Regions from separate parts of the Homo sapiens genome. Here regions 1, 2 and 3 are each reported to be linked to region 4. Evidence: microRNA targets listed by miRTarBase, many of them from high-throughput screens and not tested one by one. Region 4 holds a microRNA gene; each other region holds the end of a gene's coding sequence.

Region 1 (7,121 bases), not on the chromosome of region 4:
GCTTGCAGTCAGCCACACCATCATGAGGGTAAACACCGATACTCTCCTGTGGACTGTGATGCAGATGATTCTGCCCGACTGTAGACCAATATACATGCTCTGAGCATGTTTCAGATGGACTAGGCTAAGCTATATGTTCAGTAAGTTAGGTGTATTCACTGCATTTTTGACTTAATGATATTTTCAATTTACTGCGAATTTATTGGACATAACTCCATTGTAAGTAGAGGAACATTTCTGTCTAATATTTTGTGTTTTCCTCCCATTAAATTCCTTATTCTCTTATGTTATGGAATTCCTTATGGAATACATATTCCCTTACGTTGACATTGACAACATACTGGTAATCTTTAATATATATGAAATACTTGAATATTGTCAAATGTTATTTTTGAAGTCATTTTGATATTTGGCAATTGAGGTTTTTTCAACTTTTTGCAATTTTAAAAGGGGTATTGATATCATATGAATTATCTTTTTTCTCTGGTTTATTTCCTTGGGCTGTATTCCTATGGATAGGACTACAAAGTCAGCAATTATATTTTCTAGCTTTTGTATGACAGGAATTTTCTAACCTTATTGTCTTCTAAATCCTAGGTTCAGGAGCTCCATGAGGAGGAGGCACAGTGGGTGAACTATGATGAGGATGAGTTGTGTGTGAAAATGCAGCTAGCCGACGGGATCTTTGAGACCCTGATCAAAGATACTATTGATGTTCTGAATCAGATCAGTGAAAAGCAGGGGAGAATGCTACTTGTGTGACATCTTGCAAATAAATCGAACGCTGAGTGCTAATGTGAGTCCTGGGCCTTTCTGCCTCCTGATGTACACCCATCGCCATCATAGCAAGAGTGCTTCTGGACCTTGTACTTATTCTTAAAGACTACCAGTATGGAGTTCATAGGACAATGTGGTACACCTGGTATTACAGCCTTTGCCTTTCGAGACTATCCACTGGATTAATGGGTTATTTTCAGTGGGCAGGGTTGCACAGTGTAATCCTACACCTTTTGCTAACACCCCTACTAGGTCCCAGAGGGCCAGAAACACCTGACTTACCTCTGAGTTTAGACTAGGGTATCACTTCTTTGAGTCTGAAGTCAAGTGAGAGAGGTATAGATAAATGCATCACATCACTTTTGAAATGTAATTCTGGTCTATACCATGGAAGTCATAAATGGACATTATAGTCTCTAAACAGTATTAAACCCTTAACCACTTCTAAAATAGGCAAGCTCAATAATGTCTGCCAACTTCACATTCTGGAGTTTATTTCATTTCTTTTTGAAGACCATTTTCTTCCATTATTGTAGTTGAGCAGCACCAAGTGGACTGTCAGGCTAACAGGAATAAGTGGTAGCCTTGCTTTCTGAGCACCATCTAAAGAATTTTAAACCTCTGCATTATGTTTAGTGTTCTCTGTGTGGGCATGAAAACAAAGAAATGCCCCTACTGAAGACTGGGCTCAAAGGACCAATGCAGGGCTGGTTCTTTTACCCCTTGGTTTACTCCTGCACTTGTCTTACTCATTCTGAATCTCTACCAGCTGCTCCCAGAATCACAGATACTCAGGACCATCTCAGGCATCCAGGCATGGCAAAGTGGAAATAATTCATTTTGGCCTGCAAACCTTCAACTCCCATCTTTCCCCAAGAAGTCAGAGATGCTGTTACTTGAATGATTTAGGAAATGAGTGTGTGCACCAAAGACAAAAAGATATTGTCTATTGTTTGTGTGCTTGTTTTGCGCTATGGAACATTTTTTAATTTATTTTAAGATAAATTATTAAGTTGAAAATGTGTGTCCCTATTCAGAAGTGAAAGATTCATCTTGTAATAGTTAAACCTCCATCTTGAAGCTTCTATGGTTCATAGTCTTTGCACAGGAACCTGTGGTTTTAACAAACCAATACACATATTGAAGAAGTCATTTTAATTCAGTGAAACGAAGATGGGCTTTTCCAGATCACCTGCAATAGCAGCAGTGGGATAAAATGATTTAAAAACACTGTACAATTTAACTCTGCCTCTCTTGCAGCATTGCTTCTCACAACTATTACCTGCATCTGAAAAAAAATCTATAGACTCCAGCTGCTACATTAGAGCATAAGAGATGCTCTCCTGGGACCTCAGTACCCTGCCTTCTTGACTGGTTTCCGTTCATCAGTCCTGTCCCTCTTCAAGTAATCTAGAAGAATGTGGATACTCTTAGGCGTGAATGTAAATGCCTTAATATTGAAGGTCCTGGTTAGAAGCATGATACAAGACATCTACTGGATTCATATTTACAAATATCCTGGAATGTTATAGCTTCAAAGTATATTAGAAAAACCCCAAAGATGGTATAATCTTTAAGTGTGCACGTTCGTTTATTTCTGCATCTTCCCTCCAAACTTGCCTTTGCATCTTAAATATTTCACTATGCACACTCCCATTCCTCTTGGGTTTCATCTTGTCGTTTAAGAAATGTACTGAAATAATCATTGGAATATTTGCATTTTGCACAATGACTGGTATGATAGCTCTTGACAAATAAGGAAAGCACTGAAATGTTGTGATTGGGTCTCGGGAAATGCTCAGATTGATGTCTTACCAGCATTTCTTCTGGGCTTGTGATGTTGAGCTGTAGTCTTGTAGCCATAATGAGCAAATTGACTAAGAGAAGCAAAGGTTTCTTGGGGTTATTAACCAGTAGTGTGGAAATACTAGTTTTATGTGGCCAAGGAAAAGCAAAGGCTTTTCTTTTCAGTTTGTGTTATTTGGAAGACAGAAAAACATCTTGTCTACATCCTTTGGCTGTTTGTAGGATCACGTTGTCCTTACGATACTGAAACTTTACAGCTGCTGTAAATTTTTTATAAATGAATTTCAAAATGTTATAATGGGACTGTAGGTTGTTTTTCTACATCTTCATTATTTGGACCTAAAACCAGTTTTTAATAAGAAAGTTTATCTTTACTCTTTCTGAAATTATGACTCCAGAAAAAGAAAAAAAAAATACAAGTCATGGAATCAGCAATCTGGTAAGAAATGCTGCCAAGAATGTGGCAGTAGCTGTCCTGACAGACTCCAACTGTCTTTACTATCTGAAGAATCCTAGGCTCCACATGAGAGGCAGAAATGGATCAGTCTTATTCTTTTCTAGAAATGGTTATCTGTAGTTTGGTAGCAAAAAAAAAGAAAAAAGAATCCATAATTAGCAGATTTCTTATTAACTATTTGGATCTAATTGAAATGGCTTTATTCTTAGGATTAAGAAAGATAGATGTGGATACCCAGCCACTCGTTCCATATTGGTATCTTTTTAAATCAGCTCTGCCTCTTAATCAAGAACCTAAATATTCCCTCTTTCTAATCTTTGTTCCTTCTCCCTACACCCTCATCCTCTTTCACTCTTCCTTCATAATTCCTCTAAGAAAAATATCTTTGCATCAGCAGTAATATCTTTTAGAATAGCACTATCAGAATTTAGCAGTAAACCAACATACAGGCTTCAGATTTACTTCTGAGTCCAAAACAATTTGTGCTATCCAGGGTAGTTAACTCTGGGTTAAACAAGTACAGGGTATAGATTCCCTCTTCAGGTCTACACAGGAATTTTTACCATAGGGAAAAGTGGGGAGAGCTCAAACGTAGTTAATAAGGAAGGTAATTTGTTTTTCTTTTACCTAAAAGAAAAGAAAATTCCTTCTGTGACTACAGGTCTCTGAGAAATTATCTTTCAAAAGAGATTTCATTGCTCATAAGAGTGTTGTGGCCTATTGATAAAAACAATTTTGTTCAGTTTCTTGTCTTGAAAAAAAAGTGGCCTTAGCTTTTTGCAATACTTGAATAAAGTGTGTACTCGCAAAAGAATTTCTGTAGCACAGCATTAGAGACTCATAACTTTTCTGCAAGAAATACAAACTTACATCTTCCTTTTACTACCTTAAGAATACTAGTGAATAAAACATTAATTCAAAGAGCAAATTATAGAAACTACAATGACATTTAATGCAAATTGTAGGAATTTACATGTTTACAAATCATCTTCAACTGGTTGTGCAGCAATTCAATAAAATATCTTTGTATTATAAAAATGTGAAGAAAAAATGTAAACTGATGTAAAGGAGGTACTGTCATTTTAATTAACCTATGTTTAATAGCTTTTCCTTCTGGACTTTGCAAAGCCTTCTTGGCAAACACATTGCAAAGCATTCTCTGGGAGGTTCAGCCTCCTTGTGTGTACTGTACTGTGCAGACATGAAAAAATAAACCCGTTTACTGTGTGCGTGTAAATAGCCTGGTCATCAGGCCATTTTCAGCCAATAGTCACATCCAGTGCAATTTTGCACCGAACACTTAAGGGTGTGGTTTGTAAGTACGATCTGTAAAATAACTGGGATGAATTCCCATGTATACCTGTGTAAATAGATTTGTTAACTGAAATATACTTTAAGAAAGATAAAATCTGTAAATAAACTGATTTATAAATTAATTTCATGTCAGGTCTCCATTTTTTCCCTCCTGAGCCAACTTCAGAAAATTAGTCCCCATAAAATACATCTGATTGCTTATTTAGTCATAGGGTGCTGATGCTTGGACAGTACAATCAGGTAAGCTGTGGATAAGAGCTATTTACCTGCACATAAATGCCATCAGCACATACATTTGAGCAGCCTGGGCTTTGCTCCCACACTCATTGATTCAGCAGATAGCCACTGAGCAACTTTGTGTTCTGAGTACTGTGCTGAGTGCTGGAAACATAGCAAAAAAGACAGACATGGTCCCTGATCTCAAGAAACTTAATGTCTAATGAAAGCCACCAAAAGATATTTTGAAAACCTGTGTGACAAGTTCTAACAAGTGCTGCACAGGAAGCATACATAAGATTTGAGAATATCTTAATAAAAGGACCCAACAAGGGTAGAGTGAGTCAGGGAAGAGTTCTCTGATAAATTATAACTGTTTTATGAGCTTCTTCCTTCTAATTCATGGCAAATGCCATTTCTCCCAAATGACCTAAATTTTGATAACCCTTGCAAAATAACACATGGAAGAGTCACACTCAAGTGGACCACAAAGAAGAAGTGCAACCAGCTGATGCCCAGGTGTGGAGGCTGTAACTTATTTCTGGAAATATGAGCTTGGAGGAGAATGAAGCTGAAGTGATAGAAGAATAAAAACAATCCAAGGATGGAAGTGTACAGCACTCAAGATAATGAATTGTCTCTGGTCTGACAAATCGGAAGTGGTAACCACCATCATCTTACCTGAATTCCTCTAGTTTCCCCCAGATGGCCATCCCTGCTATATCTTTAATCCCTACCACAACCATGAACATTTCGGAAATTCTCAGAAAAAGATTGGCCCCAAATTACAGTAGGTCCTAAGAAATTCTTCCTCTCATAAAACAGATAGTTGAGACTGGGCATGGTGGCTCACACCTGTAATCCCAGCACTTTGGGATGCCAAGGCAGGAAGATTCCTTGAGCCCAGAAGTTCGAGACCAGCCTGGGCAACAGGGTGAGGCCCCATCTCTCCAAAAAACTTTTTTTTTAATTAGCGGGGCACAGTGGCACACACCTGTGGTCCCAACTACTTGGGAGGCTGAGGTGAGAGAATCCCTTGAACCCAGGAGGTCAAGGCTGCAGTGAGCCGTGTTCATGCCACTGTACTCCAGCCTGGGCAACAGAGTGAAACCTGTCTCAGAAAAAAGAAACCAGGTGTTTGAGTCCCTACTATGTGCCAGATACTGTGGTTGGTGCTGAGGACACAATAGTACAATAGTAATAACAAATAGAATCTTGGAAAAAAGACCAAATACCTGTAACCTTGAATCAAAATATATGAAAGTGGCAGTCAAGAGGATGGCAGTTGACATGGCAGAGCCAAGAACAATGAGACCAACACTGGGAGAAGTACAGTGGTGAATGTCTCCAGGAGGGAAGCCAGTCACGCCCCACATAACGGTCAACAATGGGCCGTATGTACAGCGTGGTCCCGGAAGATTCTGTATAATGGAGCTGAAAGTGTTCTATCACCTAAGGAGGTCATAGCCATTGTAACATTGTAGTGTGACACATTACTCGCGAGATTATGGTGACGCTGGCTGGTGTAAACGAACCTACTGTGCTGCCAGTTGTATAAAAGTATACAGTAATGTCCTAGCCATTCATGTTCACTCCCCACTCACCCACAGCAGCCTCCAGTCCTGCAAGCTCCATTCATGGTAAGTGCCCTATATACACATTCCATTTTCTATCTTTTATACTGTGATTTTACTGTTTTCTATATTTAAGTTTGTTTAGATACCACAAATTCTTACCATTTGTGTTACAACTGCCTACAACGTTCAGTACAGTAACATGCTGTACAGCTTTGTAGTCTAGGAGCAATAGACTACACCATATAGCGTAGGTGTGTAGCAAGCTATACCATTTAGGTTTGTGTGAGTGCATTCTACGATGTTCACACAACAATGAAGTCACCTAACGATGCATTTCTCAGAACATATCCCAGTGGTTAAGCATGCATGACTCTGCTGAGGAGAAACAGCTAATGCCCTACAAAGTCCCAGCAAAGCTCAGGAATTGGAGGCACTGGCTGCCACAGTAAAAGGTGCAAAACACGGAGATTGTTTCACCATTCGCTGGGTGTCCAGGCTGTGCAGCCAAGGTCAAAAGGCAGATACGTGCCTCCCAGGGAAGAGACCAGTGCATGACTCAAGGTCACTGAGGACAGACAACACACACATCAGGCTCAGGTGGCACAGTGTTTATTTACACCAAGAGGAGACAGTGCAGGAGGTTCAGCCCCTTGCAATGCATCAGCCCTACAAGGGCAGTAGATCCGCTCCACCGTGAACACAGGCGATGTGACTGCAAGTGCCCCACTTTGTGCTGCAGTGGAAGGACCCTCCGTCTCCGCCATGGGGTCTGAAAGGCAGAAAGCTGGGTGTGTATGAGGACCATTGACACATGAGCTTAAGCAGAACAAAGGAGTACACGTTGAGTCTGCAGTAGGACAAGATATTCCCGCTCATGGAGATAAGCCCCGCACAGGCTGTAGTGCTCTTATCTCTCAGTAAGGAAGTGTTCCAGGCCCATTCTCACGTGATTGTGCAAGGGCAGGAAGCTGCAC
Region 2 (7,121 bases), not on the chromosome of region 4:
GACCTTATGTAACCTGGCTCAGTCCCCAGGCTGACCTGCCTGAGGCCTGCTGGTCTGTGGTCTGTGATTTTTTTGTCTACCTTCTCTCCTGGCCGCTAAACGCATGGCAGCTGCATTTGCTAAAGAACACAGCGCCACCTGGTGGAAAGATAAGAGTAATGCCTTACTTTTGTACCTTATTTTTGTTTTCTGACCGCTGATTGATTCCACATAATTCTGTAAAGGTGTATTGAGCCCCAATTATATTCAAGACACTGTTACAGTCACTGTGTATGTCACAGTGAGCCACACAAAGTCCCTTACCTAATGAAACTTATAATTTGAATGGGGGAAGATGCCAATAACCAACTAGACAAATATATGCCAGGTGATGAGCTATGCACTCATAAAAATACAGCAGGAAATGAGAGACAGGGAGTACCAGAGGTAGGGCCTGGGAAGACGTAAGGTTTTCCATTCTGTAAAGGGAAGTGAGGACATATGAACAGAGATAAGAAAGAATTCAGGGAGGGAAGAACATTCCAACACAGGAAGCAGCAAATGCAATGGCCAGAGCCTGCCTGTCACAGTCACGGATGAGCAAATGGACCTGTGTAGAGCAGGGCAAGAGCAGGAGATGAGGTCAGGCATGAGGAGGATGGCCAGGTGTGGGCTTGGGGAGCCTCGTGGGCCCAGCAAGCCCTTTGGCTCTTCTTCTGAAAGACATGAGGAGACAACAGAGGAGCTACCAAACTGAGTTGGGTTTTTAAAGGCTCACTGTAGCGACTGGGTAGAGAACAAACCACAGGGGTGGGGGGTAAGGTAGCAGAGAGACCAGGTAGGAGGCCTTGGTGCAAATCCCAGGAGAGCTGATAGTGACTTGAAGCAGGGTTGCTGTAGAAGAAAGGGTGAAAGGGGATTGCGTTTGTATACATTCTTGATAGATCCTCATGTTAATTCTGAGAGATTGGAGGACAGACACTGGATCAGATGTGGGTACAAGCCCAGAGCTGAAAAGCTAGTGATCAACTCAGGAGCCCCCACTTCCTGATGCAGCATCCGATGCTCTTTCCAATGCCCAGCCTGCCGTTGGCCCTCCCTCAGCCATGCCCACCCTCTTCCCCAACTCACCCTGTGTGTGTCCTCCTTCCCGCAGGTCAACATTGACCATGAGACCCACGAGCTGACGAGGATGAACCTGCAGACTGCCACAGCCACATGCTTTGATGCGGCTCAGGGGAAGACACGTACCCTGATGGAGAAGGACTCCTACCCACGCTTCCTGAAGTCGCCTGCTTACCGGGACCTGGCTGCCCAAGCCTCAGCCGCCTCTGCCACTCTGTCCAGCTGCAGCCTGGACGAGCCCTCACACACCTGAGTCTCCACGGCAGTGAGGAAGCCAGCCGGGAAGAGAGGTTGAGTCACCCATCCCCGAGGTGGCTGCCCCTGTGTGGGAGGCAGGTTCTGCAAAGCAAGTGCAAGAGGACAAAAAAAAAAAAAAAAAAAAAAAAAATGCGCTCCAGCAGCCTGTTTGGGAAGCAGCAGTCTCTCCTTCAGATACTGTGGGACTCATGCTGGAGAGGAGCCGCCCACTTCCAGGACCTGTGAATAAGGGCTAATGATGAGGGTTGGTGGGGCTCTCTGTGGGGCAAAAAGGTGGTATGGGGGTTAGCACTGGCTCTCGTTCTCACCGGAGAAGGAAGTGTTCTAGTGTGGTTTAGGAAACATGTGGATAAAGGGAACCATGAAAATGAGAGGAGGAAAGACATCCAGATCAGCTGTTTTGCCTGTTGCTCAGTTGACTCTGATTGCATCCTGTTTTCCTAATTCCCAGACTGTTCTGGGCACGGAAGGGACCCTGGATGTGGAGTCTTCCCCTTTGGCCCTCCTCACTGGCCTCTGGGCTAGCCCAGAGTCCCTTAGCTTGTACCTCGTAACACTCCTGTGTGTCTGTCCAGCCTTGCAGTCATGTCAAGGCCAGCAAGCTGATGTGACTCTTGCCCCATGCGAGATATTTATACCTCAAACACTGGCCTGTGAGCCCTTTCCAAGTCAGTGGAGAGCCCTGAAAGGAGGCTCACTTGAATCCAGCTCAGTGCTCTGGGTGGCCCCCTGCAGGTGGCCCCTGACCCTGCGTTGCAGCAGGGTCCACCTGTGAGCAGGCCCGCCCTGGGGCCTCTTCCTGGATGTGCCCTCTCTGAGTTCTGTGCTGTCTCTTGGAGGCAGGGCCCAGGAGAACAAAGTGTGGAGGCCTCGGGGAGTGGCTTTTCCAGCTCTCATGCCCCGCAGTGTGGAACAAGGCAGAAAAGGATCCTAGGAAATAAGTCTCTTGGCGGTCCCTGAGAGTCCTGCTGAAATCCAGCCAGTGTTTTTTGTGGTATGAGAACAGGCAAAAAGAGATGCCCCGAGATAGAAGGGGAGCCTTGTGTTTCTTTCCTGCAGACGTGAGATGAACACTGGAGTGGGCAGAGGTGGCCCAGGACCATGGCACCCTTAGAGTGCAGAAGCTGGGGGGAGAGGCTGCTTCGAAGGGCAGGACTGGGGATAATCAGAACCTGCCTGTCACCTCAGGGCATCACTGAACAAACATTTCCTGATGGCAACTCCTGCGGCAGAGCCCAGGCTGGGGAAGTGAACTACCCAGGGCAGCCCCTTTGTGGCCCAGGATAATCAACACTGTTCTCTCTGTACCATGAGCTCCTCCAGGAGATTATTTAAGTGTATTGTATCATTGGTTTTCTGTGATTGTCATAACATTGTTTTTGTTATTGTTGGTGCTGTTGTTATTTATTATTGTAATTTCAGTTTGCCTCTACTGGAGAATCTCAGCAGGGGTTTCAGCCTGACTGTCTCCCTTTCTCTACCAGACTCTACCTCTGAATGTGCTGGGAACCTCTTGGAGCCTGTCAGGAACTCCTCACTGTTTAAATATTTATTTATTGTGACAAATGGAGCTGGTTTCCTAGATATGAATGATGTTTGCAATCCCCATTTTCCTGTTTCAGCATGTTATATTCTTATAAAATAAAAGCAAAAGTCAAATATGACATCCTGTCTTCAAGTGCTGTGTGGGTCAGGGGAAAAGGGGAAGTGTTGTGGAGAGCTCTGGGGAGGAGCTGGCTTTTGGGAATTCCACAGGACAGGCGAGTAAGCTTCCATGGCACAGGCAGAAGTACAGGGAGAGCTTGATATTCACCTGGTACCTGCCAGAGTCAAGAGAAGGGATAGGTTCTAACGAGGCTGCTATGATCAGTGACTTTTTAAGCTCGTGACAGCCCCACTTGTGTTGGGCTGTTGTGTGGATTGGACTGGGCTCAGCCCACTGTCATTTCAGAGCCCGTATCTTTTGCCCACCTGGCTGGGACTCGGCATGAGCCATTTCCAATTCTGCCTGTAACAGTGCAGGGGTCAGTACCCCTTGGTCAAGTAGCAAGACATCATCAGTTAGGTGGTGACTTTTGTAGGATTTTTACTTTTAAAAGTAATTTGTAATTAAATTCAATTACAAATCTTTTGTAATTTATATTCAAGAAATTATTATTCTTTTTATAATTTCATAGAAGTATCTGAGATGAGGTATATGAAGCCACTCTGTACATGAGGCTGCTCCATTCCATGGGCCAAGGGAATAAGGGTTGAACTGTGCTTGAAAGAATTTGGGGGTACGGAGACAGGCGCGGTGGCTCATGCCTGTGAGCACTGAGGGAGGGAGGCTGAGGAGGGTGGATCACTTAAGCCCAGGAGCTCAAGACCAGGCTGGGCAACATGGCAAAACCCAGTTTCTACAAAAAGTCAAACATTAGCAGAGTGTGGTGGCACATGCCTGTAGTCCCAGCTACTTGGGAGACTGAGGTGGGAGGATGGCTTATGCTGGGGAGGTCAAGGCTGCCATGAGCTGAGATCACTCTACCGCACTCCAGCCTGGGGGACACAGTGAGACCCTGGGGGTAGGTTTGCAAGGATCAAAATCTGTTCTTCCTCTGCTAATTGCCTGCTTGTTCTCCTTTTTCATCCTACTGAATCCCTCTCATTTTTTTCTGATTACGACTACTTAAAAAAATGTTTTCTTCTCTGTTGAATGATCTGTTTATACACAGATCTGGACCTTAAATGAACCTTTATTTCTTCCCTATTGATAGTCTGAGTAAAGTGATCAGACTTCAGGAACATGGGGTAGAAATCCCCATAGAATCACATCTTAAGCACAGATCTAAGGAGGGATTCTGTGGGTGACACCAGGGAGGATCCTGAAATTAAGGGCCTGGGAAGGAAGACAGGGACCAACACTGTGGCAGGCCCTGAGCTCTGTTAGTCCTTACAACAGCTCTGTGGAGTGGGTCTGAACACTTTATCATCCAGAGAAGGAAACAAGCTCTGAGAGGGAGGGACATGCTTGGGGCAGCCAGCCAGTGAGTGGCAGAATGGGGATCTGAACTCAGTTATGCCATGGGGAGTCCAGTCTGTGAAAGATGGGTGGAGGAATGTGACTGATAAGGGAAGGAAGAGCGGAGGACCCAGAAAGACAGGGAGGTACTAACACTCGCCCTTTCCTACTGCTCTCCTTCCATCTTTATGCCTTTAACATGCATGTATTGAGTGCATCGAAATCCCTCAGACCCAAATGCGTTGGGTCCAGCTTCTGCACAGGCTCACCAAGGCTTCCTTAGAGGACTCTCTCATCCTCTCCAATCAGATACCACAATTTCCCGGCGGGTCTCCCTACCCCAGCCTCTCCCTGTGCTGGTTCATTTTCCACACTGTGCCAGTCTTCAGCTCTAAAGCACAGATCTGAGCACTTTGTGGCTACGTTAGAACCCCTCAGCGGTTCACTTTTGACTCTAAAATAAAGTCCAGCTTTAATCCTGACACACAAGGGGGTCTCTGACCTGACCCAAGTCCCTCTCCAGACGTATCTCCTGCCTGGACAGCCTTCATTCTCAGACTTTTCCCTTCTCTCTCTCTCTCTTTTTTTTTTTTTGTGGCTACACATGCTGTTCTCTCTGCCTAGAACACCTCTTTCTCCTCTTTTTTAGAAAAAATTGGGGGTTGAGGTGCGAGGAGGAGAATGCCAACTTTCAAAATCCAGCAAAAACATCACCTCCTCAGTGAAGCCTTCCCAGATGTCCCTGTACAGAGTTAATTGCTCCCAACTTGCATGATTCTAAGACACAGTGTTCTTACTTTGATTGTAGCACATATGGTATTCCTCCATAACTTCTTTCTTCATGGCTTTTGCTCTCCTATTAAACTGAGCTCTTCAAAGTCAGGGTCATATTATTCACCTTGGTGAGATGGGGCAGAACAGACTACAGCAAAGCAGTTCTCCAGTCCCAGCTGTGGAGCCGGAATGTTGGGTTGGAATCCTGGCCATTCACCTTGGAAAGTTGCTTAAGCCTCAGCTGTAAAATGAGGATAATAAGAGTAAGCGTCACAGGGAACACTGAATGAAATAAAAGTGTGCGGCACAATGTTAATGCCTCATGACTATTGGCTATTATTATTATCTGATTCCCAGTACTTAGCACAGTGATTTGTATACAGTAGGCATTAGTCAAGTCAAAAAGTCTTTTGACTTCTTGAATAAAATGGCAGGATCAGAATTTCAACTCAGGATTCTAAATCTACTTTTTTTTTTAGCTGCTTCAGTACCATATTTTGTCTGATGTTTACAGCATTCCAGAATTTCAGAAAAAGAAATGGAAGGCTGGAGGCATTAAGTAAGCCAGGGTATTAGAGGGACCATGGGATTCCTGGAAACCAGGTCAGCCAACGCTGTTTTCAAATATGTGCCCTGTGACTGTGCGAGGCTGCTTGTCTCTCACCCTCTACTGCCTCACTGTGGCCATGCCAGGCAATGCAAGCTTTTAAAGTTTGGCTTCTTCCTTTGGAATTATACATCCAATGGCTTTCATTTGTTTCACTGTAGTTTTATTTATTAATGCATTTTAATAAACATGTGAAATTTTAACAGAAATGAGAATTATTAATATCACTACTGAGACAGCACAGCAGGTATAGGAGTTAAACCGAGATTCTTTAGTTTATAGGGATGAAATTACTTTTAAAAATGGAAGCTGTAAGGTAGAGAGAAAAAAGGTGTCAGGGGGCCGGGCGCGGTGGCTCAGGCCTGTAATCCCAGCACTTTGGGATGCTGAGGTGGGCAGATCACCTGAGGTCAGGAGTTCAAGACCAGCCTGGCTAACATGGTGAAACCCCGTTTCTACTAAAAATACAAAAAATTAGCCGGGCATGGTGGCACGCACCTGTAATCCCAGCTACTCAGGAGGCTGAGGCAGGAGAATCGCTTGAACCCAGGAGGCGGAGGTTGCAGTGAGCCGAGATCGCGCCATTGCACTCCAGCTTGGGCAACAAGAGCAAAACTTCCAATTAAAAAAAAAAGTGTCAGGGCCTATTGCCTTGCTGACTGCAAAGTAATTTACTGTCACGAATCTTTTAAATTGGTCCAGTTATTCAAATTGCTTTAAGGAAGAAAAGAAAGACTTGAAACTTACATAACTGAGGTGTGCTCCTGAGGGTAAGAGATATACGGCGGTTAGGCGCTGGATAATGGAGTTGGAGTCCCCATCATTTAGAAAAGATGTTTCTTGATTCACAGTGTTGGTGATTTTCAAGCTTTGATCTGTAACCTGGAGAATGATTTAATTTAATCTTTGAGAAAAGCAACAATGTGTGGATTAATCTTATGATTGTAATGGGATGCCACTTAAGGGACAGTTCCGTGCCGGGGAGGAGAATTGCCTTAGCTCAGTTAATCTCACAGTTCCAAGGCGCAGCCTCACAGGCAGCGTGGTATAACCTAATCATGGAGTCAGCAGGCTCGGAAGTTAGGCAACTGAATTAAGTTCCACATCTGCTATTTATCAGCTGAGTAAACTGCAGCACATTACTCAATTTCTCAGAGCCTCACTTTTTCCTGTAAAATGTGAATAACAATAATATTATCTTCATAGGACTTTTGTGATGACAATGAGAACATTTAGGAAAAATATTTATCATAGCACTTAAAAGTAAGTGTTCAAAAATGGTAGCTGCTTGTATGTGGCAGGCAATGTTCTAAGTCCTTCGCGTATGTTAATTTCTGTAATCCTCATGATACTCCTATGAGTTAGCTACTATTATTA
Region 3 (7,121 bases), not on the chromosome of region 4:
AACCAGATTGCCAAGAAGAAGGTTGGCAAACTATGGCCCATAGGTCAAATCTGGCCTGCCACATGTTTTTGTAAATAAAATCTTATTGTAACACTGCCACTATTATTCATTTTTGTATTGTCTATAGGTGGTGTCATGCTACTGTGGCAGACTTGTGTGACCATGGCCCACAGAAAACCTAAACTGCTTACTGTCTGGCCCTTTACAGGGTACGTCTGTGGACCTCTGGCTTAGACCAATTATGTTCACCCTCTGGGTTGGTGATGTGGCTGCCCAAACAAAACTGGGTTTAGTTAGCAAGAATGGGAAGCAAAATAGCTACAGGGTAGGTGACAATATCCTTCCACAAAATATCAGTTGTAATTTTTCCAATAGACTAAAATAAATACCTATTAATAATAAGAGCTTAAGGCTGCACGCGGTGGCTCACGTCTGTAATCCCAGCACTTTGGGAGGCCGAGGCAGGAGGATTGCTTGAGCTCAGGAGTTCAAGACCAGCCTGGGTGACATGGCAAAATCTTGTCTCTACAACAAAATAATAATAAACAAAGAATAAAAGCTGAAGTTTGTCTTCAACTCTGGCCGTATGCCCCTGGGCTACCCAGGGTGCACTGTGGTCCATGATTTATTGAAAATTCACCTTTCTTCCTGACAGGTCTGTGTGTCATGATTGCGGCCTCCATTTATACAGACAGGCGTGAAGACATTCACGACAAAAACGCGAAATTCTATCCCGTGACCAGAGAAGGCAGCTACGGCTACTCCTACATCCTGGCGTGGGTGGCCTTCGCCTGCACCTTCATCAGCGGCATGATGTACCTGATACTGAGGAAGCGCAAATAGAGTTCCGGAGCTGGGTTGCTTCTGCTGCAGTACAGAATCCACATTCAGATAACCATTTTGTATATAATCATTATTTTTTGAGGTTTTTCTAGCAAACGTATTGTTTCCTTTAAAAGCCAAAAAAAAAAAAAAAAAAAAAAAAAAAAGAAAAAAGAAAAAAAAAATCCAAAAGAGAGAAGAGTTTTTGCATTCTTGAGATCAGAGAATAGACTATGAAGGCTGGTATTCAGAACTGCTGCCCACTCAAAAGTCTCAACAAGACACAAGCAAAAATCCAGCAATGCTCAAATCCAAAAGCACTCGGCAGGACATTTCTTAACCATGGGGCTGTGATGGGAGGAGAGGAGAGGCTGGGAAAGCCGGGTCTCTGGGGACGTGCTTCCTATGGGTTTCAGCTGGCCCAAGCCCCTCCCGAATCTCTCTGCTAGTGGTGGGTGGAAGAGGGTGAGGTGGGGTATAGGAGAAGAATGACAGCTTCCTGAGAGGTTTCACCCAAGTTCCAAGTGAGAAGCAGGTGTAGTCCCTGGCATTCTGTCTGTATCCAAACCAGAGCCCAGCCATCCCTCCGGTATCGGGGTGGGTCAGAAAAAGTCTCACCTCAATTTGCCGACAGTGTCACCTGCTTGCCTTAGGAATGGTCATCCTTAACCTGCGTGCCAGATTTAGACTCGTCTTTAGGCAAAACCTACAGCGCCCCCCCCCTCACCCCAGACCTACAGAATCAGAGTCTTCAAGGGATGGGGCCAGGGAATCTGCATTTCTAACGCGCTCCCTGGGCAACGCTTCAGATGCGTTGAAGTTGGGGACCACGGTGCCTGGGCCAGGTCAGCAGAGCTGCCTCGTAAATGCTGGGGTATCGTCATGTGGAGATGGGGAGGTGAATGCAACCCCCACAGCAGGCCAAAACCTTGGCCTCCATCGCCACAGCTGTCTACATCTAGGGCCCCAAAACTCCATTCCTGAGCCATGTGAACTCATAGACACCTTCAGGGTGTGGGGTACAGCCTCCTTCCCATCTTATCCCAGAAGGCCTCTCCCTTCTTGTCCAGCCCTTCATGCTACACCTGGCTGGCCTCTCACCCCTATTTCTAGAGCCTCAGAGGACCCATCCACCATTCATTCATTCATTCATTCATTCATTCATTCATTCATTCATCAACATAAATCATAACTTGCATGCATGTGCCAGGCACAGGGGATACCCTCTAGAGACAATCTCCTCCTAGGGCTCATGGCCTAGTGGAGGAGACAGATTAAAACTTAATTAGAAAAACTGGCTGGGTACAGTGGCTCATGCTTGTAATCCCAGCACTTTGGGAGGCTGAGGCGGGTGGATCACCTGAGGTCAGGAGTTCAAGACCAGCCTGGCCAAAATGGTAAAACCTGTCTCTACTAAAAATACAAAAATGAGCTGGGCGTGGTGGTGCATGCCTGTAATCCCAGCTATCAGGTGGCTGAGGCAGGAGAATCACTTGAAATGGGAGGTGGAGGTTGCAGTGAGCCGAGACCGTGCCACTGCACTCCAGCCTGGGTGACAGAGTGAGACTCCATCTCAAAAAAAGAAAAAAAAGAAAAGAAACTAATTACACACTGTGATGGAGGCTGCAAAGAACACCACTAAGAATTCAAAATCAGCTGGGTGCGGTGGCTCACACCTGTAATCCCAGCACTTTGGGAGGCTGAGGCAGGTGGATCACAAGGTCAGGAGTTCAAGACCAGCCTGGCCAACATGGTGAAACCCCGTCTCTACCGAAAATACAACAAAATTAGCCCGGTGTGGTGGCAGGTGCCTGTAATCCCAGCTACTTAGGAGGCTGAGGCAGGAGAATCGCTTGAAACTGGGAGGCGGAGGTCGCAGTGAGCCGAGATTCACCACTGCACTCCAGCCCAGGCGACAGTCTGAGACTCCGTCTCAAAAATAAAACGATTCAAAATCGAGGCCTGTGGCATGGTAGGGAGGCTGCTTTACGCGTGCCTATTATTAAATGCTCCTGGAGGCATTTAGGTATTTAGATCAGTCTAAATATAGCTCCATTCAGTTCGTGCAGATGACAGTTATTGGGCAGTACCTGTCTGTGTAACACCCAGAAAACATGTCTGTGGAGGGGCCCATGGTCCCGACAGTAAATGCGGTGAGAGGGTCCCATAGAGCTGGAGTTTTCAAGCTTTAGGGGTTCCCGTGCTGCTTGGGACAGGCTGATTCAGAGGGTCTGGGTGAATGATTTCCAGGTGATTTTAAGACTGTGCTGAGAAATAGGGCTTTTGGGGCCTTGTCCTTCAGGATCAAAGCATGATGCTGTGTGGCAATGCAGACCACCCAGGAACCATCCCAGGAGATAAGCTCTTTGCACCTCATTGTCTTTTTCTGCTTATGTTGGAGCAGGATGCTGGGGGCTGTCCTGGGATGGGGTGTGGGACCTCGTGCTATTTAAATACTTTTGCACTTGACCTTCTGCTGAGTGGAGTGGTGGTTTGCCATCAGCTCAGTTCCAGTGGAGCTGAAGAGACATCTGGTTTGAGTAGTTTTAGGGCCACCATGGATATCTCTTCAATGCAGGATTGGCTCTTTCCATCTGCTCTTTCATTCATTTGTTTTTGACAGATAGTATTAAATGTTTACCATGTTCCAGGCACTGTGTGAGGCTCTGAAAATACAGGGGTGAGCAAATCCAGATATCCTCCCTGCCATCATGAAGTTTGGAGTCTATGAGATAGGACCCCCTCCCTATGGAGAAGCCACCAATGCAGTACAGGGTGACCTGGGGCCAGAGACAGGACAAATGTCACCTCCTGCCTCCATGAGATACTCTCACTAGTCATATTGTGGGCAAGAATGTGGCTTACACCCCTAGGGTTAACAGGATGCTACCCAAGCTCATGGAGGAAGTTGAATCTTAAGTTCCCTTGAAACTTTCTACCTTGGTGGCTTTTCTATAATTTTCTTTTTTCTTTTTCTTTTTTTTTTTTTTTTTTGAGACTGAGTTTTGCTCTTGTTGCCCAGGCTGGAGTGCAGTGGCACCATCTTGGCTCACCGCAACCTCTGCCTCCTGGGTTCAAGTGATTCTCCTGCCTCAGCCTCCCGAGTAGCTGGGATTACAGGCATGTCCCACCATGCCCAGCTAATTTTTGTATTTTTAGTAGAGATGGGGTTTCTCCATGTTGGTCAGGCTGGTTTCGAACTCCCAACCTCAGGTGATCCGCCCACCTCAGCCTTCCAAAGTGCTGGGATTACAGGCATGAGCCACTGCGTCTGGCCTTCTATAATTTTCTGGTAGTCACGATGGAAACAAACAAAACACCTTAGAACCAGAGATCGACCCCCTCAAGCAATACATCAATTCCCTTCACAAGAAACGTCGGGGCTACATGAGTATCTGTGTTGAATGCGGTCTGAAATGATCCTATGGATTTTCCCGGCTGGTTGCCACTGCTGTACAACATTCAGTGCCCACATCCACCTGTGCCATTAAGCTTTTTTGAGACATGAGAGATGCCTCTTCCCTGCTGTATGACATGCATTTGGGAAGTTGGAAAGAAATGACAAAATCAGGGAGAAAACATCCAAGCTTCTTACCTGTAGATAGAATCAGCCCTCACTTGGTGCTTATTACCAGTTATTCAAGAACAATAACAACAACAAAATTAGTAGACATCCAAGAAGCACATATTAGGACCAAAGATAGCATCAACTGTATTTGAAGGAACTGTAGTTTGCGCATTTTATGACATTTTTATAAAGTACTGTAATTCTTTCATTGAGGGGCTATGTGATGGAGACAGACTAACTCATTTTGTTATTTGCATTAAAATTATTTTGGGTCTCTGTTCAAATGAGTTTGGAGAATGCTTGACTTGTTGGTCTGTGTGAATGTGTATATATATATACCTGAATACAGGAACATCGGAGACCTATTCACTCCCACACACTCTGCTATAGTTTGCGTGCTTTTGTGGACACCCCTCATGAACAGGCTGGCGCTCTAGGACGCTCTGTGTTCACTGATGATGAAGAAACCTAGAACTCCAAGCCTGTTTGTAAACACACTAAACACAGTGGCCTAGATAGAAACTGTATCGTAGTTTAAAATCTGCCTCGCGGGATGTTACTAAACTCGCTAATAGTTTAAAGGTTACTTACAATAGAGCAAGTTGGACAATTTTGTGGTGTTGGGGAAATGTTAGGGCAAGGCCTAGAGGTTCATTTTGAATCTTGGTTTGTGACTTTAGGGTAGTTAGAAACTTTCTACTTAATGTACCTTTAAAATAGTCCATTTTCTATGTTTTGTATAATCTGAAACTGTACATGGAAAATAAAGTTTAAAACCAGATTGCCCAGAGCAAGACTCTAATGTTCCCAACGGTGATGACATCTAGGGCAGAATGCTGCCATTTTGAGGGGCAGGGGGTCAGCTGATTTCTCATCAAGATAATAATGTATGGTTTTTACACTAAGCAACTGATAAATGGACAATTTATCACTGGACAATCTCCCTCTGCTTCTTTAATGGGGCCAGCTTTGCAGCCCTGCAGCCTGGGTAGTCGCACACATTTCCATGCATCCAAGGCCCCCATGCTTGGGAGAATGATCTGCTAGTGCCATTTTAAATTATTTTATATGTATTTCTTGTAGAGACAGAGTCTCGCTGTGTTGCCTACACTGGTCTAGAACTCCTGGCCTCAAGCGATCCTCCTGCCTCGGCCTGCCAAACTGCTGGAATTGCAGGTGTGAGCCACTCACTGTGTCCGGCATAAAGTAGAACATTCTTACAAGAAATAAATATTTCGTAGTCATGGAGAAGAACGCTCCTAAAATGTATGTATCCGTTCATTCATCCATCCATTCATTCATTCTTTTATGGGGCGGGGGGTCTGTTGCTTATGCTGGTTTTGAACTCCTGGGCTCATGTGATCCTCCCACCTTGGCTCCCAAAAGCATTGAGATTGCAGGTGGGAGCCACTGCGCCCGGCTTTAAAGTTCTTCGTATTTGAACAAGCAGCCCCATATTTTCACTTCTCAGGGATCCCCACAAATGACTGATCCTGTTTGTTTTTTAACCTTCCTGTTCATTGTTACTAGATCATGTTCTTTCATTTCATTTGTATTTAATAAAGACCTCTGCTTTAAAGGATGAGGTCATGATGGAATGAGACTATCTTCTACCACATATTCTGCTGAAAACTGAAAAATTCAGACAGAGAAGGAGAGAGAGAGAGACAGACAGATCCCTTTAGCTTCTATCTAAGGAATGCCAAAGGTAGCAAAAGCTATCTTTGTATCTTGAGAACACTCATTTCCATACTGTCACACAGGGTTTACAAACTAAAATCTTCAGAGGCTACTGTCTGCCTTCTTTGTGTTTCTAGATTGGATTTTTTTTTTTGTCCATATGGCTGGGGGATGGTGATCACCCCAGAACACTCAATTTCATATTTCTTCCATTCAGGAAATCAGCCTCTCATTCATTCATTCACCAAATATTTGCGTAGCTGTAATGGTACAAGCATTGTGCTAGGTGTTATGGTGACATCCTGTGCCTTTGTCTCCATTACATACTATGAACTTTTGGAAGGACATGATTGAACCTTTACCACCCATTACCAGGCCATAAGGAGCCCCAGCTGGACACAACTGAGATCACAACACATCACCCATCGCCCTGGAGTGGGAGCCGCCTTAATGAACTCAGTCCCTGCCTTGATCTAGATAATATTAGTCTCAGTTTCAAGTTTCCAGGGCTAGATTCTGATGGGTCTGTCTTGGGTAACACACTCACTCATCATTGCCCCAGTACTTGGCTGGAGTCAGGAGTGAGATCAAATTATGCAAACATGCGGGTCGCGGTGCAGTGGCTGATGCCTGTAATCCCAGCACTTTGGGAAGTGAAGGCGGAAGGATCACTTGATGCCAGGAGTCTGAGATCAGCCTGGGCAGCACAGCGAGACCCCATCTCTATAAAAACTACAAAATTAGCTAGGCATGGTGGTGTGCTCCTGTAGTCCCAGCTTCTCAGGAGGCTGAGGTGGAGAATCGCTTGAGCTTGGGAGGTCCAGGCCGCAGTGAGCTGTGATGACGCCGCTGCACTCTAGCCTGGTGACAGAAACTCTGCTTCAAGAAATAAAAATTCTTGTACATTCGTGAAACGAACTAACCCCTTCCCAAGAGGGATCTAACCTGAGGTCTCAACCGGCTTCCACTTCCAGCTCCCACTCCAGGGCGATGGGTGATGTGCTGCATCTCAGTCGGGTCCAGTTGGGGCTCCTTATGGCCTGGTAATGGG
Region 4 (7,121 bases):
CATGAATTTCTCTTTCCATCTCTGTCTCTTTCACTCTTTAACTCGACTTGTCACACACCTTGCTGTAGGACGGGGGAAGGGAGAGGCCACAGCTTCCTCATCGCAGTTTAGTGACCCCAAAGGAAAGAGAAAAATTGCTTTTTTTTTTTAAACACCCATCTATAAAGACCCAGAGGAGCACTCTAGTCCAGCTCAAGTCACAGGTCCACTGTAGACCAACCATTTCAGCTTGTTAAAGCAAATGAAATATGGCCTGAGAAGGACTCCGTACTTTTATATTTGAGTCCTTGTGGACGAACCGTAACCTAGCTTAATAGGCACGCAAAATTGAAAACCTAACTTAGTAGTATGCACTTGTAACAATAGCTGAGTGTTGGCCAATCCCAGCGGCCATACTTCAACCACTCATAGACTGCTGAGTGTTCAAACTGTTCAAATACGGCAAACGCCGAGCTGCAACCAATCTCACTGTTTCTGTACCTCACTTCTGATTCCTGTATGTCACTTTAGTTTAGTTTTTTTTTTTTTTTTTTTTTGGAGACCAAGTCTCTCTTTGTTACCCAGGCTGGAATGCAGTGGCACAATCTCAGCTCACTACAACCTCTGCCTCCCAGGTTCAAGTGATTCTCCTGCCTCAGCCTCCTGAGTAGCTTGGATTATAGGTACCCGCCACCACGCCTGGCTAATTTTTGTATTTTTAGTAGAGACAGGGTTTCACCATGTTGGCCAGGCTGGTCTCGAACTCCTGACCTCAAGCCATCTACCTGCCTTGGCCTCCCAAATTGCTAGGATTACAGAAGTGAGCTACTGCGCCAGGCCACTTTACTTTGTCTATAAATTTGTTCTGACCCCGGGAGTCTCTCTGAATCTGTTGATTCTAGAGGCTGCCTGATTCATGAATTCTCTTTTTCTTTCTTTTTTTTTTTTTTTTTTGCTCGATTAAATTTAATCTAATTGAACTTGTCTTAAGCTTTCTTTTAACAAGCTCCATGATGGGCATCTCAGATTGGCCAGGCCTGGTCCACCTGCTGTGGCCTGGGGCTGGTACTGTGATTGTGAGGACCATCAGCACTGAAAGAATTGAGGATGGGCGGTTCACCTGTTCAGAAGGCGAGGGGGAGATGTCACACAGCCAAATGCAGCAGATGTCCTCCACCACGTGCATCCTGTCAGCACGCCCGCCTATGGAGGGCTCAGCCCTTTCATGCTCAGACAGGCCGGTCAGGAAGCCCCGTCACAGGGAGGCTCCAGGGTGGTGTATGGAAGGTAGTGGTCTGAATAGTGTCTGTTGAGCAAATGACAAAAATCAACCCCAGAGAAGCAGAAAACATCTAGGTGGCCCAGCCTGGTAAGTGGCAGGAGATGGTAGTAGAGCTGTCTCTGCCTGTCACCTTCAGCCTCTTCTTGCAAGCCCCTGGTGGTCCCATATTGAGGTAACAATGCCCATTCTTCTTCCAGACAGTGTAGAAACAGTGACAATGTGGTTATGGCCCCCTGGAAAGTGAGCAGTTGATGAGCTCTGCTTATGGCTGCTCTCCTCCATGGCAGAATGCATTCCTGCAGGATGAGGTCATGGAGCCAAGGAAGGTCAGGGTGTGGGGGGGCTTCCTGGGTCAGAGCTCCAGAGCAGTGCTGCTCCCCCTGCCCTCCTCCTTAGGTCTCCCATCACTGGTGGTCTCAGAAATCTCTGAAGATTTCAGAAATCTTGAATCCCTTCCCTGGTGTGAATGCAAAGGGAAGAGTCTGTTCCTGTAAAGTAGTTTGCAGATTGGTGGAACTGAGAGAACCCAGACCCTTCCCCGTTTCCCTCGACCTTTCCATCTCTGGACCCCATGCAGACTATGCTTGGGTGGTGACACAGAAGAATTTAGTGTTTGGTGGACCCGTTTCTGGAAGTGATGGATGCTGACAGCTGGCACTTAACAGTTATCAAAAATAACATTAACTGGAGTAGGCTCTGTGCCACTTAGAGCTTAATGACTCACTGACTTCACCCCAAATCCCCATGAACTAGCATTATTATTAGCCCTATGTTGCAGGTGAGGAGACTAAGGCTCATCCAGTTAGAACATGATGGCTGAAACCTACATTCAAACTCTGGTCTGTTTGAATCTAGAACTCTTAGCTTCCCCCCAGCGACTGTGTTAGAACAGAGGAATCATCAGTTCAATTTTCACCTCCCTCCTAAGCCTTCGTGGCTCTAGACGTATGGTTATAAAGGTTGTTCACTGCTCAAGGGCCCAGGAGGGTTTGGGGCTGGTGGATAGGGGCCAAAATACAGCCCAGGGGTGCCATTTTTCTAATTCTCACCAAGGCCCTATACTGACTAGCAGCGGCTCTACCCGATACCATCCAGGGCCTTTTCAGAATTCTGAAGGCACCCACGGTGCTGGCTACTCACACACCTGGCCCCCCTTAACCATGGCTGCCTTGCACTGTGACCCAATTGGTTCCCATGACAAAACCTGTTATTCCCATAACTCACCCAACACTTTTTTGCCCCTAGGCTCTTGCTCCTTTGGTTCCCTCTGCCTGGAATGGCCTTCTCTCCCGAGCCGCCTCGCCTGGTTCTATTAGGTTGATGCAAAAGTCATCGCGGTTTTAATGGTAAAAACCGTGATGACTTTTGCACCGACCTAGTATTTCACAAAACCTACATTTCCTTTAAAACCCAACCTGATGCCTACTCCTTCAAAATGCCTTTCATATCCCACAGTTCGACTTCATCTCACTCTGCCTCCTCTCACAGGGCTTTGTGTTCGTGCTGGATGGAGCCCATCATACTCAGCCTCGCAATAAAGGCCACCTATCTAGTGAGTGAGCATTTACTAGGCGCAGGACTCTGGGCTAAACGCTGTCCATACTTCATCTCCTTGATTCTTCACGTCACAGATGTCATTATGCCCATTTCACAGAGGAAGAAACTGAGGCTTGGAGGACTTAAAGCCTTGTTTCAGCAGGAAACGGAATAAGGCGTTCTGATTTTCAAGCTGTCTCCTATTAGGGCTGGTTTCCCCTAGATGTCATGAGTAGGTGTGAAGTGTGAGCTACTTGAAGGCAGAAGCCAGGGGGGTCCCCCGCAATCCCGGAGGCGGGCTTCTGAAAATGTTTAGCCCAGGAAGGAGGGCTGCCCTGGCCCGCAGCTTTCCGCCCCTTCCCAGGTGAGCTGCAACTCCAAAGCTCCCAAGCAGGCCCTTCACCCACGCGGGCCCCAGCAGCTCCTTGGGAAACAGGATCGCTGCTCTGAGGCCGCCCACAGAGAGACCCTCGGAGGGCGCCACGCAAGCGAAGGGCAGAAACGACTCGGGGGGCAGGGGCAGGGCGCTCCAACCACACCCAGGCGCCGCCAGCTTGTTTACGCCTCTCCGCCGCGTCCCCCCGCCCGCCAGTCACGTGACCGCCCGCCCCGCCCCCTCGGGCTCTCGCGTGGCTCCTCCCGCCGCGCCGGCCCTTCTTTTTGCCTCCTTCGCGGAGTCACAAGATCTCTTCGCAGCCTCCTTTCGGATCCTTCCGCCCGGCCCCGCCCCCCTCCATAAAAACCCTCCTTACTTTTTTTCTCGTCCAACCCACATCGTCAGTTATGAGTGGAAGAGCCTCTTCCTTCCGGCGGGGCTGCCGAGCGCGGCCGTCTATCCTTCCTTTCGAGAAGGAGGGGAGGTCCGGAGGGGGACTCTTTTTCGTGGCGGAGGCCGCCGTCGGCCTTGGCCCTTTCACGACGGGGGAGGTGCTGTACGTCCAAGATGGCGGCGCCCTGTAGGCTGGAGGGACTGTGAGGTAAACAGCTGAGGGGGAGGAGACGGTGGGTGAGTATGGGGGTGTCTCCCCCTCCTTTTTATGGGGGCTTCCTGGGGCAGCCCCGGCACCATGACTCCAGCCGGGGAGGCTCGGAGGGGCTGGAGCAAGAGACTCACTTGCTTGGTAGGGATCCCGGGGAAGGGGGGTTCGGAGAGCTCTCCCCTCCCTCTTATTACACGCTATCTCCGGCTGGCCCGGCCGGGACTGGCGGGTCCCTGGGGAGGAGAGGCGAGCCGGACGGAGCACTTCGCCCCTCCTTGGCCCCCGAGGGGACGGCTGCACCCTGGGCCTCGGTCCCTCGGGCAGGGGCGAGGTGGGCCCCTTCGTCAGTCCCTCACTTGGTGGGGTGACAGGTTCACGCTAGGTGCGGAGGGCAGGGTAGAGACGCTTGGCGGGAGGGGAAGGGTCGCGAGGGTGGGGCTGGTCCCAGAACTTAAAGAGAGGGGTCGGGGTATAGGGGCGTGGAGAATGAATGGAGGTCGCCTGTGGGGATCAAGGACTCGCCTGGATTCGGTGTCTCCGCTGAAATTTGCATGACTCGCTCTGGGTGTACTTGTGGGTGTTTAATTGGTGGTGAAAGACAGTTACCTTAAAGTGGGCAAAGGGGATTCCTAAGAGACAGCTATTTGCAGAGCCCCTCCTAGGCGTTCATTCATTCATTTGAGGAACTGGAGGATGAAGAGCCTGCAATCGGAGGGACCTTGTAGAATTAAAGCTCTTTCTTTGTGTTTCCTGTTAAAGAGTTTTGCTTTGTGTGTTTTGGATGTGTGGTGAGGACTTGGGAGGGGACGCGGTCCTCCTAAGAACAACAGCTAACGTTAATGGAGTGCTCTCTGTGTGCCAGGCACTGTGAAAGTGCTTGGCAGTCATTATCTCCTTTGGTCCTCACGACAAAGAGAAGAGGCAGCCACTGTTAACACCTCCAATCTTCTCAAATGAAGAAACTGAGGCCCGGAGAGAGCAGGGTACTTTGCCTAAGTTCACACCCCAATTGTATCTGAGCCAGGACTGGAACTGCTGGGATCTGACTGACTCCAAAGATATGACTCTTAAATTTATCTGTTATTTGATCAAAGCTGGCCTGTAAGTGATTAAAATTTATCATTTAGCCAAGGTTTATGCACGTGTGTCTGTTTAATGTTGAAGTGGGGGGATGCACTTGGCTTATCCGCCTTAGCTTTTGTTTGGGATGGCAGTGTTGTGCATGTGAACTTGTTAGTCTAAATTAGGCTAAAAAGTATTTGATAGTTTAATAAAACTGATGAGTTTACTGAAGAAAGAAGTCCTGCTAAAATCCTTGCTGGCTTTTTTTTTTTTTTAAATAGAAAGCATACAAATAACACTTCACGTTGCATAGAGTAAGCTATAAAAGTGCTAAAATAGAATAATACTCTTCTGAGATACTTTGATTTATAATTTTGGGATCAACTTGGAGTCATCTGAATTCAAACAGGCCGGCAAAGTGGAGCTGTAAATTTCAGGAAGCATTATAAAACCTAATCTTTGGGGAGCCTTTGATTTACCGAGCAACCACCTGTGATTCTTAAATTGAACATTCCTGAGTAAATCTGGAATATGCAAATGTGAAAACTGATTTAGGGTTGTGTAGGGAAATGCACCTTTAACAGTCATGCATCAGGCAAATGAGGCTCCTCAGAAACAGTGAAACATTCTTTGCTATTGCCCTAGGGAGCTGCAGAATCTTCCTCTAACCACCTGGTGTAAACTTAAGGGGTATTTATAGAAGATGTAAACGGAAAATATCCTCTTACTAAAGTTAATATCTTATCCAAAACACTCTTATATCACGTGCCTAGAAGGGCAGATGATGTAAACTTTCTCTGCTGCATGCATTTCCTGGTGTCATAAACACTTGGTACGTTCCTAAATTCCTGGTTAGAAAGCAGGTGGCTACCAGCCTTCTTGTTTCCATAAAATTAGAGTGCTTCAGGTCCTGTGACTCAGTTGTCCTCTTCCTCACTGGGTTAAGAGTAAAAACTGATACTGCTACTGTTGTGGTGTAATATGATGCCTTCTGTGCATGCCTGGTTTCATTCGTGAGATGAAACTTAACAGTCTTACTAGGGCAAATCTAATATATACCTCTATATGTAATGTTTGCAGAATAATGAACTTGGTGGAAACGAGATCTGAAACCCTAGTGCTCATGAGAACCTTGATGTACAGATATTTGGCACTATACTAGGTAGACCTACATATTCGGACACCTTGTATATATATTTTGGAAGAAGACTGATTCTTATGTGCACCGGAGGTTGAGGACCACTGGCTTCAAGTATCATTCTGGCTATTTTCATTTATTATTTATCACAGAGGTATTTCTTAAAATAGCTTGTAGCCTTTTATTTGTGTAGTGGTGGGTGAATTTTGGGCTCTGAATTAGAGCTGACTTGTTCTTATAGCTCTGTCTTCATTTGAAGTTTGTTTGGCTACAGGTATGTTTATTTCTGGGTTCCAGGGCCATAGTGAACTAAAATTAGCTTTTCCTGGAATTAATTGGATATTCTTGAATGCCGATGAGCCAAATATAGCAATATCTCAACCATTTCAGGCTTTTCTAGAGAGTCAGATAGCTTTTGACCTTCAGTGGGTCACTTAAGTTCTGTGAGCCTGTGTCTTCATCTGTGAAGTAAAAGTTGGAATGTAAATTAATGAGTATTTCTAGGCCTACATTTCTGTGATTTAAAGTCCTTTGGGGTGTCATTTAAATATTCTGACTAAATCGATTGAGTCAACCTGTTAATGGTTTTATAAAAACCAAGCAAATTGGTGACTTTGAGCCTACCCTGTTGGGTGAAGATCTGTTTATCATTTATCCTTTCCTTTACATCATAATACTCTTTGAAAAGGTAATTCCCTATAAGTTTCCCATATTATAAATCTCTGAAAGGTTAGTCTTTGCATTGGTTTTGTCATTTAAGTAGCTGAAGGCGTGAAAGAAAAGTGTACTTAATAGCGTTAAAATCTGTGGCTGTTTGCTTGAAATGTGTATATGTAGTATACACTCAAACACTGAGTTTGTTTTTTTTAATCTCAGATCATGAATTGGTAACTAATATAATTTGGGTAGCATGAAATACTCATTCTCCATTTAAATTCATCTGAAAGAGGTAAACTGTCAGCAGTTTGAGATTATTCTTTCTCTGGTTTACTTTTTAAGACTGTAGTTGCTAGAAATTAGTAACTTTATGTCTGTTTTCATGGGAGAGAATAAAAATGCAAATTTTATATACTGTGTATAAAATACACTGTCTCAGGACCTTGTCAGTTTCTTCTTGTCCTTTCTCTCGTTCAGTGCTAACTTT

The links. Region 4 holds the annotated microRNA hsa-miR-548aw (GUGCAAAAGUCAUCACGGUU, at 2,613-2,632, opposite strand). A microRNA usually pairs through its seed, bases 2 to 8, with sites in the 3' UTR of a target mRNA and lowers its output. Matches are read on the target gene's strand: a 7mer-m8 pairs with bases 2 to 8, a 7mer-A1 pairs with bases 2 to 7 and ends in A, and an 8mer does both.
Region 1: miRTarBase lists CEP350 as a target of hsa-miR-548aw. Seed matches in the 3' UTR shown: 7mer-m8 at 2,497-2,503, 8mer at 3,816-3,823, 7mer-A1 at 4,160-4,166 and 7mer-m8 at 4,326-4,332.
Region 2: miRTarBase lists RGS16 as a target of hsa-miR-548aw. Seed matches in the 3' UTR shown: 7mer-A1 at 2,958-2,964.
Region 3: miRTarBase lists EMP2 as a target of hsa-miR-548aw. Seed matches in the 3' UTR shown: 7mer-m8 at 1,026-1,032 and 7mer-m8 at 3,280-3,286.

Annotation. Positions count from the first base shown.
Region 1 is chr1:180,110,400-180,117,520 of GRCh38, forward strand. CEP350 (centrosomal protein 350) reads left to right here. Exons shown (of 38, transcript NM_014810.5): 38 at 598-4,476. The coding sequence ends at 762. Among named protein-coding and RNA genes, the nearest start is that of QSOX1, 41 kb to the right of the region's middle.
Region 2 is chr1:182,594,528-182,601,648 of GRCh38, reverse strand. It overlaps RGS16 (regulator of G protein signaling 16), which reads left to right. Exons shown (of 5, transcript NM_002928.4): 5 at 1,136-3,026. The coding sequence ends at 1,357. Among named protein-coding and RNA genes, the nearest start is that of RGS16, 6.3 kb to the left of the region's middle. RefSeq lists an enhancer at 116-165.
Region 3 is chr16:10,526,627-10,533,747 of GRCh38, reverse strand. EMP2 (epithelial membrane protein 2) reads left to right here. Exons shown (of 5, transcript NM_001424.6): 5 at 656-5,326. The coding sequence ends at 843. LINC01290 (long intergenic non-protein coding RNA 1290) reads left to right here and starts at 5,550. Exons shown (of 2, transcript NR_149081.1): 1 at 5,550-5,656. RefSeq lists a silencer at 1-76 and an enhancer at 1-76.
Region 4 is chr9:132,941,225-132,948,345 of GRCh38, reverse strand. MIR548AW (microRNA 548aw) reads right to left here and starts at 2,639; the gene lies at 2,575-2,639. TSC1 (TSC complex subunit 1) reads left to right here and starts at 3,730. Exons shown (of 23, transcript NM_000368.5): 1 at 3,730-3,803. It also overlaps a transcript of GFI1B not described here. RefSeq lists enhancers at 3,013-3,152, 3,513-3,812, 3,125-3,858 and silencers at 3,333-3,412, 3,943-4,002, 4,063-4,122.